Regions from separate parts of the Homo sapiens genome. Here region 1 is linked to region 2. A link means that fine-mapping ties the variant in region 2 to the expression of a gene that starts in the linked region. Tissue or cell type: whole blood. Region 2 holds a variant in brackets; the other region holds the start of a gene. All regions are shown on one strand. Distances are from middle to middle.

The links. PIP is the estimated chance that this variant, and not a neighbour inherited with it, causes the effect.
Region 1: NINL starts here. The variant in region 2 is fine-mapped to the expression of NINL in whole blood (INTERVAL, PIP 0.95).

Annotation. Positions count from the first base shown.
Region 1 is chr20:25,582,222-25,590,328 of GRCh38, reverse strand. NINL (ninein like) reads left to right here and starts at 4,798. Exons shown (of 24, transcript NM_025176.6): 1 at 4,798-4,874. RefSeq lists a silencer at 4,734-4,863.
Region 2 is chr20:25,991,526-25,999,632 of GRCh38, reverse strand. No RefSeq gene overlaps it. Among named protein-coding and RNA genes, the nearest start is that of LINC01733, 40 kb to the right of the region's middle. RefSeq lists a silencer at 76-260. The variant GTA/A (reference allele first, on the strand shown) is at 4,450.

The DNA of each region.
Region 1 (8,107 bases), 410 kb after region 2:
AAAAAAAAAAACAGGGATATGTAAGATGCTGATATTTACAGGACCTGAGTGAGAAGAATATGGAACCTCTCTTTTCTACGTTTCCAAGTTTTCTGTAAAGATAACATTAATTCAAAAGAAAAAGTTTTTTTTGTTGTTGTTTCTTTTTTTGTGAGACAGATTTTCGCTCTTGTTGCCCAGGCTGGAGTGCAATGGCGCGATCTCTGCTCACTGCAACCTCCACCTCCCAGGTACAAGCAATTCTCCTGTCTCAGCCTCCCAAGTAGCTCGGATTACAGGCACGCGCCACCATGCCCGGCTGTTTTTCTTTTGTATTTAGTACAGATGGGGTTTCACCAAGTTAGTCAGGCTGGTCATGAACTCCTGACCTCAGGTGACCCACCCACCTCGGCCTCTCCTGCGCCTGGCCAAGAAAATGTTTTTAAAAAGAAGAGCGATCAGGATGTGATGACGTCGCTGTAAGGTATGAGAGAGAGAGTCAAGATTGACTCAAAGGTTCTTTCCTGAACAATTGTGGTGTCAGGATATCCATTGGTTTTCATCCACAGTTACTGGCACATGACTCCCATAGCCCTTGCTACAGTCCTTTGTTATATTGTTGTGTTGGGCCTCATGGGCAGGCCCCTGACCTCCTCCTGGCTTTCTGATTGTGGGTCTTTTTTTTTTTTATTTTATTTTTAGATGGAGTCTCATTCTGTTGCCCAGGCTGGAGTGCAGTGGTGCGACCTTGGCTCACTGTAACTTCTTCGCATCCCGGGTTCAAGCGGTTCTCCTGCCTCAGCTTCCCAAGTAGCTGGGACTATAAGTGTGTGCCACCACGCCCAGCTAATTTTTGTATTTTTAGTAAATATGGTGTTTCATCATGTTGGCCAGGATGGTCTCGATCTCCTGACCTTGTGATCCGCCCACCTCGGCCTCCCAAAGTGCTGGGATTACAGGAGTGAGCCACCGCGCCCTGCCGTCGATTGCAGGTCTTAAGACTCTCCCATGAGAGGGTCTCACCCTATTCCCTGGGAGAAGGAATGCTGATATCATGAAGCTTTCATAAAACCCCAAGAGGACAGGGTTCAGTGAACTTCTGGGTAGGTGAACAGTGGAGGTTCCTGGAGGGTGGTGCCCAGGGAGGTATGGAAGCTCTGCCCCTTCCTCCAAACCTTGCCCTATGTGTCTCTTCACCTGTGTCCTTTACAATATCCATTATAATAAACCAGTGGGCCAGGCATGGTGGCTCACGCCTGTAATCCCAGCACTTTGGGAGGCCAAAGCAGGCAGATCACCTGCGGTCAGGAGTTCGAGACCAGCTTGGCCAACAGGACGAAACCCTGTCTCTACTAAAAATATAAAAATCTAGCCAGGTGTGGTGGCGCATGCCTGTAGTGCCAGCTTCTTGGGAGGCTGAGGCATGACAATCACTTGAACCTGGTAGGCGGAGGTTGCAGTGAGCTGGGATCGCACCACTGCACTCTAGCCTGGGCGACAGAGCAACACTCCGTCTCAAAAATAAATAAATAAAAATAAACCAGTGAACATAAGCGTTTCTCTGAGTTCTGTGAGCCACTCACAGGTAGCAAATTAATCGAAACCAAACAGGGGGTCAGGGGGTCATGGGAACCCCAACTTGAAGCTGATCTGTCAGAAGTTCTGCAGAGGCCCGGCCTTGCAACTGATGTATGTGAGGAGTCTTGGGGACTGAGTCCTCAACTTGTGGGATCTGACACTCTCTCCAGGTAGTGACAGAACTGAATTAGAGGATGCCCAGCTGGTGTCTGCTGCTCAGTGTGTGGAGAAAACCCCACACACATTTAGTCATAGGTCTTCTGTGTTGACTGTTGTGCGGTGTGAGAGTGGAGAGTTTTCTCTACACGACAATAAAATTGGAATGTCTGGAGGTAGGATGCAGGCACTGGTGTTTTTAATTTTTAAGTAGTCAAAGTGGAGAACTCCTAGTCTTCCCACTTCTCTCTGATGAAGAACCACTACATTAACTCATTTAAATTCGGTATGCTCAACTGGGCACGGTGCCTCATGCCTGCAATCTCAGTACTTTGGGGGGCCAAAGTGGGAGGATCATTTTAGCCCAGGAGTTCAAGACCAGCCTGGGCAACATAGACCCCATCTCTACAAAAAATTAGTAAGTTAGCCAGGTGTGGGGGTGCATCTGTAATGCAGCTATTTGGGAGGCTGAGGTGGGAGGATCACTTGAGCCCAGGAGATCAAGGCTGCAGTGAGCTGTGATCACACCACCACACTCCAGCCTGGGTAACAGACTGAGATCCTGTCTCAAGAAATAAAATAACAAATAAATTCAGTACACTCCTGTGCAATGGGTAATTTTTACATTTCTATTTTGCAAATGAAACTGAGATCACAGATGTTACATGACTGGGTGATCCACAGTCAAACAGCTAGTAAGTGGCATGATTCACATCTTCTGACTCCAAATTCATTCTCCAGCCAGTGAGTGGGAGCCCGTGCAGAGCATCAGGAGCACTGAAGAGAAGACATTCTTCACAATGGCAGCCCCCATGGCTCTGAGCACCCCTGGGAATCCAGGGTTATAAACTGGAGTCATCGGGGTCTTGGCTGCGCATCCCACAGGGACCACCTTTGCACGGTGTGTCCTGCCATTGTGCCCCACACTGGTTGGGACAGGTCATGGGCATAGCAAAAGGTATCTGGGCACATTCAGCAGGTCAGAGAAACCTCCCAGCCTAGAACACACTATGAGCGTCTCTGAACCACTCCCTGTGTTTGCCTTTTGCTCTGCATGGGGTTTAGCACTTGCAGGCACTTGGAAATTTCACTCGCCCTTGGAAACTCCGTTCCCCCATAGCCTGTCTTTCATCCTGCTTCCTTCTCACCCCATTTTGCCTCTGATCCTCACATCCTCTAAAGTGGAGTTCCTACAAAGTATATGCACCTTTCTCATGCTACAGTGTACTGTAGCTCATTTTGTAATTCTGATATAACTCTCTGACATTTTTGTATATTTATGTTTTTATTTTTATTTTTTGGAGACAGAGTCTTGCTCTGTCGCCCAAGCTGGAGTCTAGTGGCAAGATCTCAGCTCACTGCAACCTCCGACTCCTGGGTTCATGCAATTCTTGTGCCTCAGCCTCACGAGTAGCTGGGACTACAGGCGCGCGTTAACCACAACTGGCTAATTTTTTTGTGTTTCAGTAGACACTGGGTTTCACCATGTTGGCCACGCTGGTCTCGAACTCCTGTCCTCAGGCAATCTGCCCACAGTGGCCTCCCAAACTACTGGGATTACAGGCATGAGTCACCGTGCCTGGCTGTATTTACTTTTTTTTTTCTTTTTTTGAAATGGAGTCTCACTCTGTCGCCCAAGCTGGAGTGCAGTGGCTTGATAACCACAACCTCCGCCTCCCAGATTCAAGCGATTCTCCTGTCTCAGCCTCCTGAGTAGCTGGGATTACAGGCATATGCCATCACGCCCGGCTAATTTTGTATTTTTAGTAGAGACGGGGTTTCTCCATGTTGGTCAGGCTGGTCTTGAACTCCCGACCTCAGGTGATCCGCCTGCCTCAGCCCCCCAAAGTGCTGGGATGACAGGCATGAGCCACTATGCCCGGCCGGGTATTTACGTTTTTAAATTGTTTTCTGTGTAAACTCTATAAGGGCCAGGGATTTTTTGCACCGCTGTTGGCAGCCCCTAGGACAATGCCTGGCCCTAGTAGGTGTTCGATAAATATATACAGGTTGAATATCCCTTAACCGAGATGCTTGGCACCAGAAGCATTTAGGATTTCAGATTTTGGAATATTTGCATTATACCAATTGAACACCCCTAATCTGAAAATCCAAAATTAGAAATGCTCCAATGAGGCCAGGTGCGGTGGCTCATGCCAGTAATCCCAGCACTATGGGAGGCCAAGGTGGGAGGATCACTTGAGGCCAGAAATTCCAGACCAGCCTGGGCAACATGGTGAAGCCTCCTCTCTTAAAAAAATACAGGCCGGGCGCGGTGGCTCACGCCTGTAATCCCAGCACTTTGGGAGGCCGAGGCGGTGGATCCATCCCTTGAGCCTAGGAGTTCGAGACCAGCCTGGGCAACACAGTGAGACTCTGTGCTAAAAATACAAAAATTAGCGGACATGGTGGCAGATGCCTGCAGTCCCAGCTACTGGGGGTTGGGACGCTGAGGCGGGAGGATCGCCATAGCCGGGAAAGTCGAGGCTGTAGTGAGCCATGACCGCGCCACTGCATCCCAGGCTGGGCAGCAGAAGTGACAGCCTTTCTCAAAAGAAAAGAAAGTTAAAAGAAGAAAAAAGAAGTGCTCCAATGTGCATTTCCTTTGAGCATCAGGTCAGCGCTCAAAAACTTTCAGATTTTGAAGCATTTCGGATTTCAGATGTTTGGATTAGGGATGCTCAACCCGTATTGATTTAATATGCGGTGGAAACGTGACGACCTAGGTTTTAAGTCGCGGTTTCCTCAGTGGTGGGTTTGGGGTATTACCCCTGCCTGGCCGGCCTCCGGGCTTGTTTCCAGAAGATGCTACCCCGAGAGCTGCGAACCGCCAAGCTCCGCAGCGCGCAGGGCTCCGACAGGGACCAGCGAGGTCAGCTCCAAGGGTCACCCCAGGCTCCAAACTGGCCAGAGCCGCCCTGAGATTTGCGGAGGCCGCCTTGCCCCCACCCCGCCCCGCAATCCCGGACCCGACCCGCCCCCTCTCCCGTTCGCTCGCCCCGCCCCCTGTTCGCCCACTGCGCCGGGACACCGAGGGGGCGGTGCCTCGAGGCCGGGAGGAGTGTTGCGTCGCGGCCTCCAGACACAAAGAGCGGCCGGCGGTACGGGGGTGGTGCCGCGCTCCTGGCCCCGCGCGGGCGGACGGCGGAGGCGCCTCCCAGGTGAGCCGGCCCGGGCGTCCGGCGGGACATTCAGGCGGCTGGTGGGGTCGAGAGTCCGGGGCCGCCCCTGCGTCGCGACCCGCGCCTTAGTCACCAGACCCGGCTCCGGGAGCGCGGCCTCGGGTGCTCCTCGCGGTGCGGGGCGCAGACTCGGCGCATCTGCTGTGGTGCCTGCTCTTCCGGTCGCCCTCGAGGGCGGGGCGGGGGTCACGCCCTAAAATACAGCGCCCGCTGGGCCGAACGCTTGAAAACCCGGTTTCCCGACGGCGGCGGCGCGGGCGCCGTGCGAACGAGGGCCCGGGTCCAGCACAGCCCCAAGGCTCGGCCTGAGGCGGGCGGCCTTGGCCGGGGCCCCCCGTGGTAATGAGCTACGCGGTGCCCGCCGCCTGCCCAGCGCGGGCCGTTTCTCCTGACGCCGCCGGCGTCTGGTCGAGGCCCAGGATTCCCTCCTGCCAGTGTGGCTGCGGCCCCCCACGGAGCGGGACCCGCGTTCGTGGCGCTTGGGACGGTTGATTGAAAGGGTGTAGAAGTCTGTTGCGAATTTTATCTGTTGTACTCGTTTTGCAGATTCGCCCCTTTCCTCCCGCCTGTGCGCGCAGTCACACACACCATGTGGGAGTCTCTGATCGCGTTGGGTTCATAATCATCGATCGTGCCTGGGTACTGATGCCCCATTGTTAGGAGCTCTGTGTGGGGCTGTATGTTTGCACAGGACTCACGTGAGGAAGGGTGGCCACGTTTCTTTCTGCTCTGTGAGACTTAGGCCAAGCCCTGGAACTAGGGAGGAGGTTCAGGAAGAGACCCATGAAGCTGGCGGGGCCTTGGAGAAGGGCAAGTGATTTTCAAGGTCAGTAGTAAGAGGGGTCATGAGTAATGGTAAGTTTCTTAGCGGCCTTTGCTGTGACTTCTAGGTTTTTCACACTGGACTTAAAATACTTTTAAAAGCAGAGTTTTTGTTCTTCTTGTTGTTGTTCTTGTTGTTGTTGCTGTTTTTGAAACGAAGTTTCACTCTTGTTGCCCAGGCTGGAGTGCAATGGCGCCATCTCGGCTCACTGCAACCTCTGCCTCCCGGATTCAAGCGATTCTCCTGCCTCAGCCTCCCGAGTAGCTGGGATTACACGCCCAGCTAATTTTTTGTGTTTTTAGTGGAGATGGGGGTTTCACCATGTTGGCCAGGCTGGTCTCGAACTTCTGACCTTCAGGTGATCCAGCTGCCTCGGCCTCCCAAAGTTCTGGGATTACAGGCGTGAGCCACTGCACCCGGCCAAGTTTTTGTTTTGTTTTGTTTTTGTTTTTTAATTTTATTTTACTTTAAGTTCTGGGATACATGTGCAGAACGTTCTGGTTTGTTACATGGGTATACATGTGCCATGATGGTTTGCTGCACCTATCAACCCGTCATCTAGATTTTAAGCCCCACATACATTAGGTATTTGTCCTAATGCTCTCCCTCCTCTTGCCCCCCACCCGCCCCGACAGGTCCCGATGTGTGAGGTGTGTGATGTTCCCCTCCCTGTGTCCATGTGTTCTCATTGTCAACTCCCACTTATGAGTGAGAACATGCGGTGTTTGGTTTTCTGTTCTTGTGTTAGTTTGCTGAGAATGATGGCTTCCCACTTTATGCATGTCCCTGCAAAGGACATGAACTCATTCTTTTTTATGGCTACGTAGTATTCCATGGTGTATCTGTACCACATTTTCTTTATTCAGTCTATCCGTGATGGGCATTTGGGTTGGTTCCAAGTCTTTGCTATTGTAAATAGTGCTGCAATAAACATACACGTTTATGTGTCTTTATAGTAGAATGATTTATAGTCCTTTGGGTATATACCCAGTAATGGGATCACCGGGTCAAATGTTATTTCTGGTTCTAGATCCTTGAGGAATCGCCACACTGTCTTCCACAATGGTTGAACTAATTTACACTCCCACCAACAGTGTAAAAGCGTTCCTATTCCTCCACAGCCTCTCCAGCATCTGTTGTTTCCTTGCTTTTTAATAATTACCATTCTAACTGATGTGAGATGGTATCTCATTGTGGTTTTGATTTGCATTTCTCTAATGACCAGTGATGATGAGCTTTTTTTTTAATATATGTTGTTGGCTGCATAAATGTCTTCTTTTGAGAAGTGTCTGTTCATTTCCTTTGGCCACTTTTTGATGGGGTTGTTTTTTTCTTGTAAATTTGTTTAAGTTCCTTCTATATTCTGGATATTAGACCTTTGTCAGAAGGGTAGATTGCAAAAATTTTACCCCGTTCTGTAGGTTGCCTGTTCACTCTGAAGAGTTTCTTTTGCTGTGGAGAAGCTCTTAGGTTAGATCCCATTTGTCAGTTTTGGCTTTTGTTGCCATTGCTTTTGGTGTTTAGTCATGAAGACTTTGCCCATGCCTATGTCCTGAATAGTATTGCCTAGGTTTTCTTTTAGGTTTTTTATGGTTTTGGGTTTTACATTTAAGTCTTTAATCCATCTTGAGTTAATTTTTGCATAAGGTGTAAGGAAGGAGTCCAGTTTCTGTTTACTGCATATGGCTAGCCAGTTTTCCCAGCACAATTTATTAAATAGGAAATCCTTTCCCCATTGCTTGTTTTTGTCAGGTTTGTCGAAGATCAGATAGTTGTAGAAAGCAGAGTTTGTTTTTTTTTTAAGTAGTTAAAACTCATCTGTTAAACAGAACACTGAATCAGCAGCCTAGCAGTTTTATGAACTGTGTGCAAGAATGCTTGTATATTAAAAGGAAAATGTTCAGGTGTTAGAGAAGCAGTCTACTTTCATGCTTGTCCCTTTTGTTTGACTTATACATCATCCATTAGTGGTTTAAATGATGACAGATTGAATTGATCTGTATTGGCAAATAAAAGTGGGATGTGTGTTTATGTAAAGTTCAGGTGCAATAAAAATTAGAGGATAACTCTTTTTTGTAGAATGAGAAAATAGCAAGCCTTCTCCAAGGAACTTGGACTTCAGATTTTTTCTTTTTAATGTAGAGCCGGGAGTCTTGCCCAGGGTGGTCTCCAACTCCTGGGCTGAAGTGATCCACCTGCCTCAGCCTCCCAAAATGCTGGGATTACAGGTATGAGCCACCACACCTGACCTCAGATAACATTTAACTCCATCAAATTGGAAAGAAAGCACTTTATAGAGGAATAGTTAGGACTTAAGCAAAAAGTTTTGTTTTTTGTTTGTTTGTTTGTTTGTTTTTGATATGGAGTCTCGCTCTGTCGCCAGGCTGGA
Region 2 (8,107 bases):
TGTTTGCTTTCGTGCTTCCTTTCTCTGTCTTTTTCTCTCTTTCTTCCTTTTTTCTTTGTTTCTTTCATCTTTCTTTTTTTCTTTCTTTCTTTATCTTTATTTATTTATTTATTTATTGAGATGGAATCTCACTCTGTCGCCCAGGTGGGAGTGAAGTAATGCAATTTCGGCTCCCTGTAACTTTCATCTCCCAGGTTCAAGTGATTCTCATGCCTCCACCTCCCAAGTAGCTTGGAATACAAGCGTCCACCACGCCCAGATAATTTTTGTGTTTTTTGTAGTGATGGGGTTTCACTATGTTGGTCAGGGTAGTCTTGAACTCCTGACCTCAAATGATCCACCCGGTTCAGTCTCCCAAAGTGCTGGAATTACATGCGTGAGCCACCACACCTGAGCTGTATATGCCATTGTATGATTGCAAATAATTATATGAATCTTGGAGAACATCATGGAAAGATGTTCATCATCTTGTTAACTGGTTATTTCAAGAGTGGAGCTGGAAGGGGAATACTGCCTTTCCTGTGTATTTATTTGTAATGTTTCATTTTCATTATGAACATGTATTATTTTAATATGTTTAAATATTAATAAACACAGGCAAAAATATGTAATTTTAATTCAAGCTGAAATCGTCAAGGCAATCATACATAACAGATGGAGCAAATAAAACATTTAAAATCCCTGAGTGAAAAGGAGGGGAGGCTGGGCATGGTGGCTCACGCCTATAATCCCAGCACTTTGGGAGGCCGAAACAGGAAGATCACTTGGGGTCAGAAGTTTGAGACTGCCTTGGCCAACTGAGACCCCTGGACTCGATTGGAATTGGTCCCACAAACTTTTTTTTTTGAGGGAGTCTCACACTGTCACCCAGGGTGGAGTGCAATGGGGCAATCTCGGCTCACTACAACCTCTGCTCCTGGGTTCAAGTGATTCTCCTGCCTCAGCCTCCCTAGTAGCTCGGACTTCAGGTGTCCGCCACAACACCTGGCTAATTTTTTTCTATTTTTAGTAGGGACAGGGTTTCACAATGTTGGTCAGGCTGGTCTCAAACTCCTGACTTCAGGTGATCCACCAGCCTCTCAAAGTGCTAGGATTACAGGTGGGAGCCATCACACCCCACCAATCCCACAAATTTAGGCATTATGATAATCGGAGCCACCATGCCCCACCAATTACACATATTTAGGCATTATGATATATTGTTACTTTTAGAATCACTTGGTTTTTATATTGTGTTTTTTCCCTTCCATTTGTTTGTTTATTTATTTATTTATTTATTGAGACAGAGACTCGCTGTGTCACCCAGCCTGGAGTGCAGTGGCGTGATCTTGGCTCACTGCAACCTCCACCTCCCGGCACTCCATCTCCACCACACTGGCAACTAACATGCCTCCTCAGGCCCTCTCAGGGTCTAGAGAGGGCGTCTGGAACAGACTGGGAAACTCCAGTAGGCAAAGTAAGGTGCCAGAAATAAAGACACCACCTGAAACATTCTCCATGTTCCCTCCACCCACTCCTCTCCCACCACTCTTCCATCTGGCTCCAACTCTGCCCTCTCCACAAGAGCCTCAGATTGAAATGTTGCAAGGAAGACAAAGATTCTCAAAGTCACAGGCTTGGGAATCTGAGCTATAAAGAAAAATGAGCCTCTGCTCCCCCAACTCCCCCATACTCCCCTGGGCACTGCTGCCCTACATGCACCCCCTCCTCCATAATTTGAACTGTCCTCCCAGAAGCTGGAGGGAGACTGCCCGCCTGTCAGGAAAGAAAGGACCAGCATGCGGCAAATGCCTGGGCTACATAGGAGCAGACGGCGAGATTAGCGCAGGGATTTAAGAAACAAGTGGCTCTCAGACCAAAGAAGACTTGCCCGAGATGGCACACTAAGCATTCATAGGGGTGTGCGCTGGACAGGAGCTTGCCAGTTACCCAAAGAATTGTCTGAGAAAGGCTCTGATCTGGCCCGAAAGGCCCTTGGTTCCCACGGCAACTCCTCAGCGTCTGGCAGTAATAGGCTTCTGTGCCCAGACTTTCTGGGTCTGGAAGTCCCCCTCTGCCAGCCTCTTGCAGCCCAGAGGCACCTCCCATTGGCGCCTGATGGGTTAAGGAAGCTGTTCTTCTAGCTGTGACAGATCAAGCCTGAGGACCTCTCGTGTGTCTTTCTTAGTTGTTTCTTCCCGCCCACCTGCCACTCAAAGCCACAACCCACTTGCATGCCCCCGAGTGGACCCCTTAAAGCGACCATCTAGATCTGAATTGCGCTGAGGGAATGGTCAGCTTCATTCCCATTAGATGGCTTGGCCCAAAGGAACTAGCGATCGCCCAGACAAAAATGTCTTCCTAAAAGCTGGATGTGTCTGTGGTCTCTAAGAGGCAAAACCAAACCCAAAAGGAAAAGCCAACCCACCCACCCCCACCATAAAACAAAAACCAAAACCGCCGACAACCCATCTTTCACATGAGGAGTCCGTGAGAAGGGCCTCTCCAGCCAGGATCAGGTAAGGGAATCTGTGCCCTTGGCCGGACCCAGAACACCCAGTGGCAAGGAACTGACTGTCACACTCTGACCCCATAGAATTTCCACCATTGTCACACAGGTCAGGATGTGTCAGCCTGAGAGATGACACCACAAATCTGGCCTTCACAGATTGATTCCACACTCTCTCACTGATTCCACACACATCCCGCCACTGACACCAGATTCCCTCATCACTGACCCTACATACCCACAAGAATTGATTCCATGGATCTCATCACTATCCAAAAGACCACCCATCACTAATCTACAGACCCTCATCTCTCACCCCAGGGACCCCACAGATTCCCCATCCCTGATTCCAGGATCTATAGAACCTCATCTCTTACCCCCACAGACCTATTTATAAGAGGATACGTTCATGGAATACCATGTTGACCATTTTACACATCCATTGCGTGTGTGTGTGTGTGTGCTGATTAATGGACTTAGGTAAACTTTAGCATTTTGGTAGCCAATGCAGTTTTTCAATGCCTTTTCTTTTTCTTTCTTTTTCTTGTACAACTTTAAAGACCTTACTCCAGTAAGTGTGATTTGCAATTTATCAATGCCTATCTCTTATTGGGTCCTTGTCATGCATATTTGTTATTAATCATAATTCACAATTCTTACAACTCAGAGACACCAGAGTCTCACATAAGAAGAATGGCTGTGGGTTTTTATTATTGTTATTTTTTTGGTTTCTGTAGATTATAAAAGTCATTCATTTGTATCAAGTCAGTAAGTGTATATTTTGTTTTCTTAAAAAATGTAATTAAAAATATTTTTGCTGGAATGCAGTGGTATAATCATGGCCACTGCAGCCTCAACCTCCTGGGCTCCAGTGATCCTCCCACCTCAGCCTACCTACTGGCTGAGACCACAGGCATGCAACAATATACCCACCTAATTAAACATTTTTTTTTTTTTTTTGTAGAGATGGGCTTCTCACTATGTTGCAGAGATTGGACTTGAATTCCTGGGCTCAACTGATCCTCCAACCTTGGCCTCCCAAAATGTTGCAGTTAGAGGTGTGAGCCACTGCACTCAGCTGATAAGATCTTAAAAAGAGTAAAATACTTTGGGAAGTAATGTAAAATTTCCACTGAGACGATGCATCAGAAATTAAAGTAGAATAAAATGGTCCTAGGGCATCTGAAACAATGGGAACTAAGTCTTGAGCCAGGTGTGGTGGCTCATGCCTGCAATCCCAGCACTTTGGGAGGCCAAGATGGTGGACTCATTTGAGGTCAGAAGTTCGAGACCAGCCTAGCCAACACGGTGAACCACAATCCCTACTGGGAATACAAAAATTAGCTGGGAGGTTGCAGTGAGCTGAAATCGTGCCACTGCACTCCAGCCTGGGCAACAGAAGGAGACTGTCTCAAAACATAAAATAAATAAAATAAAAATAAAGAAGAAGAAGAAACAATATCTTGATTTCATCATCAAGTGTAAAAATGTGGACTCTGGAGGCACACAGGTACTCTTTTTCTCTGAAGTTTTATTAAGAAATATTAACATATCACAGAAGCCACCCATTTAAAGTGTAAAATTCAATGATTTCAGTATATTTGCACAGTTGTGCAAACATCATCACAATAAATTTTAGATCATTTTCATTACCCCAAAGTAAACCCCATATCCCTCCATTTCCCCCAACTCCCCTAACCTTGAGCCACCACTAATCTACTTTCTGTCTCTATGCATTCATGTATTTTGGACATTTTATTTAAATGGAATTACATAACGTGATATTTCATGACTGGCTTCTTCCACTTAGCATAATATTTTCAAGGTTCATTTAATCCTGCATGTGCAGAGGGGGCACTTTGCATAAAGATAAACCTGGTGGGTGGTGCTTACTGATTTATTTTGAAACTTCGCTCCAAAATTGTGTGTGTGTGTGTGTGTGTGTGTGTGTGTGTGTGTGT[GTA/A]TTTTTTTTTTTTTTTTTGAGACAGAGTCTGGCTGTGTTGCCAGGCTGGAGGGCAGTGGTGCGATCTCAGCTCACTGCAACCTCTGCCATCCTGGTTCAAATGATTATCCTGCCTCAGCCTCCTGAGGAGTTGGGATTACAGGTATGTGCCACCACACCTGGCTACTTCTGTATTTTTAGTAGAAACAGTGCTCTTCCATGTTGGTCAGGCTGTTCCTGACCACCACCATGCCCAGCTAATTTTTTTTTTTAAGACAGGGTCTCACTCTGTTATCCAGGCTGGAGTGCAGTGGCACAATGTCGGCTCACTGCAGCCTCGACCTCCAGGGCTCAAATGATACTCCCACTTCAGCCGCCCAAGTAGCTGTGACCACAAACATGTGCCACCACGCCTGACTAATTTTTGTATTTTTAAAATACAAAAAAACCTGTTAAGACAGGGTTTCAGCATGTTGTCCAGGCTGGTCTCAAACTCCAGAGCTCAAGTGATCCACCTACCTTGGCCTCCCAAAGTGCTGGGATTACAGGTGTGAGCCACTGCACTTGGCCTAATTTTTTTTTTTTCTGAAGAGATGAGCTCTTGCTGTGTTGCCCAGACTGGTCTCAAACTCCTGGCTCAAGCAATCCTCCTGCCTTGGCCTTCCAAAATGCTGGGATTACAGGTGTGAGCCACCACACCGGCCCATTCTTTCTTTTATACTGAGTATTCAGAAATTTTTTTAAATGTGTTTTCCACTTACAGCATTTCTCAGGTTGGACTAGCCATCTTTCAAGTGTTCAGCAGCCTTGTTGGACAGCACAGCTCTGGAGGGTGATTTTATGTACATTCCCACTGCTCTCTCTGCCTCCTTGATTCCCATCTACCCCAAACCCCTGCAGTGTGTGACTATCGTGTCTCTCTCTCCTCTCTTTCTGTTTCTTGTATTCCTTTAATATAGAGAATTATTTCCAATTCCTTAACATCGTGCCCTGATTTTTTTCTGTCTTATATTCAAGGGTCACAGTTTTTCTCTCACCATCATTACAGTCTTTTCCCATAACATGTGACATGTCTTTTTGTCTTGGTTGAGTATTTATTTACAATACATGAATGGTTGTTTTCTTTGATATATTAGTGACTTACATACTTTTTTTTTTTTTTCTGAGATGGAGTCTCACTCTGTCACCCAGGCTGGAGTGCAGTGGTGCAATCTAAGCTCACTACAACCTCTGCCTTCCAGGTTCAAGTGATTATCCTGCCTCAGCCTCCTGAGAAGCTGGGATTACAGATGTGCACCACCACGCCTGGCTAATTTTTGTTCTTTTAGTAGAAACAGAGTGTTGCCATTTTGGCTAGGCTGGTCTTGAGCTCCTAACATCAGGAGATCCACCAGCCTCAGCCTCCCAAAGTGCTAGGATTATAGGTGTGAGTCACCTCACTTGTCCAGTCTGCACTATTCCTTGGAGTCAGACAATTTGAGGCAAACAATGTCTTTCTCATTCAGATGTGACCTTCAGGATCTAATTTTTGTAATTTTAGTATAGACAAGGTTTCTTTTCTTTCTTTCTTTTTTTTTTTTTTGTTGTTGTTTTTGAGACAGAGTTTCACTCTTGTCACCCAGGCTGGAGTGCAGTGGCATGATCTCAGCTCACTGCAACCTCTGCATCCTGGGTTCAAGCGATTCTCCTGCCTCAGCTTCCTGGGTAGCTGGGATTACAGGCGCCTGCCACCACACCTGGCTAATTTTTTGTATTTTTAGTAGAAACAGGGTTTTGCCATGTTGGGCAGACTGGTCTCAAATTCCTGACCTTAGGTGATCTGCCAACCTCAGCCTCCCAAAGTGTGGGGTTACAGGCATGATCCAGCACCTGGCCTCTCCTGGCTAATTCTTTGTATTTTTGAAGAGATGAGGTTTCACCATGTTGGCCAGGATGGTTTTGATCTCCTGATCTCCTGATCCACTGGCCTCAGGCTCCCAAAGAGCTGGGATTGGAGGTGTGAGCCACTAAGCCCAGCCTCAATGTAGCTTTTTATCAAAGTATTTATGTAGGAAAAATCAATCAAAGAGCACAAGCATTTCAATACTTAGGTTACTTAAGATGAAATTTGTGACCAGAAGAGTGCCAGACACACATGAAACGTTTTGTGCATGAAGGAACCACCAATTAGATAAACAAATTTGAAGGAACTAAGTAACAAATAATTTTCTGTTGTTTGTTTTGGTATGTTATTTTGGTAATGTGATTAATCACGTATGTCGACGGCATTGGGAAGAATTTTCAGATTCTCTGATATGCATGACATCTTAATCAAACAATATAAAGCAAGGCTATCTTAGGAAATTAGGTATCACTGCCAAGGACCTTTACATGAGAAGATAAATTAAAATTACTATTAAATTTGTAACACTCAGATGGGCTGGTAGGCAAGTTGTGTCATTTTTACTCGGCATTTTTTCTTTTCCTTGATTCAATAAAACAAACCTAAATGCCAGCTATCTGCAGAACCCTCACTGGACTATGTTTAATGATATGTGAAACACAGCCTGCACACTCACAGATCCTTGCCACGTCCTGTTCTGATCCTCTCAAAACCTGTGTTACCCTGTGGCTAGATTTCTTAAGGAGATGAAAGAGAGAGACAAATGAGAACAATCTTTTCTGATGTCGCTCTACACAGCTCCTGCAGGTAGACAATGAGCTCTCCGGTGAGGCTTTTATCCTTGGCTCGGGGGTGGAGGCCTTAATCCTAGAAAACAGGTCTCTCAGGGTGGGGAGGTGATTTAAATCCTTATGAGATAGACGCAGCTCCCCATCTCATCCAGACCTTCACAAACTCAAACTGGAACCACCGGAAAAACGACTGACAACCGGCCACAAGACCCAGGGAGAGACGCGGGGAGAGGGTGACCAGAAGAAAGGCTGACGTACAAGATACCGCCCTCTGGCACACAGGGCACATGTGTCCCAACACACACACGCACACACAGACGGTCACAGAGCGAAAGACCGAGAAAGGAGAGAGAGAAATAAGAGAGAGACTTACGCACACACACAAACGCAAAAAGACATAGGGCAGTGGCACGGTAACACTCACCCCCAGGCAGCCCCTGAAGCTGCCGTGTTCTGCTCTCCGCAACTACGACCCATCAGTGAGAGAGCAGCTCATGGACACACAAGCAAAACTCTCCTTTTTTGAAAAGACTCACTGGCACACGGTCCATGCAGGCCTGAGGCTGGGACCCCGCCCTGCTTCTTCGGCCCTCTGCCCGCGGTTTCTTCCTCTTGGATGACCCTCCGTGAATTCCGGCCTCCAGAGACCATCCTGTTGATGCCCTGGCCAGGACTGGTTTTAGCCTCGACTCTGATTAATCCCTCTAATCCCAGGTACTCGCGAGGCCGAGGCAAGAGAATCATTTGAACCCAGGCGGCAGAGTTTGCAGTGAGCTGAGATCCCACCACTGCACTCCAGACTGGGTGACAGAGTGAGACTCCGACTATTAAAAAATAATAATAAAATAAATGACGGCAGAGCGGCGGCTGCAGGGACTGGGGTGGTGGCTGGTGAAGTGAAGATTGGGAGAGGGGCCTCATCGACCCTCCGCAAATCCTGGCTTGAGGCTGGCATCTCGCGCTGCCTCCCTTGCGATCTGCCTGAGGTTTCTTGCTCCTGAGGT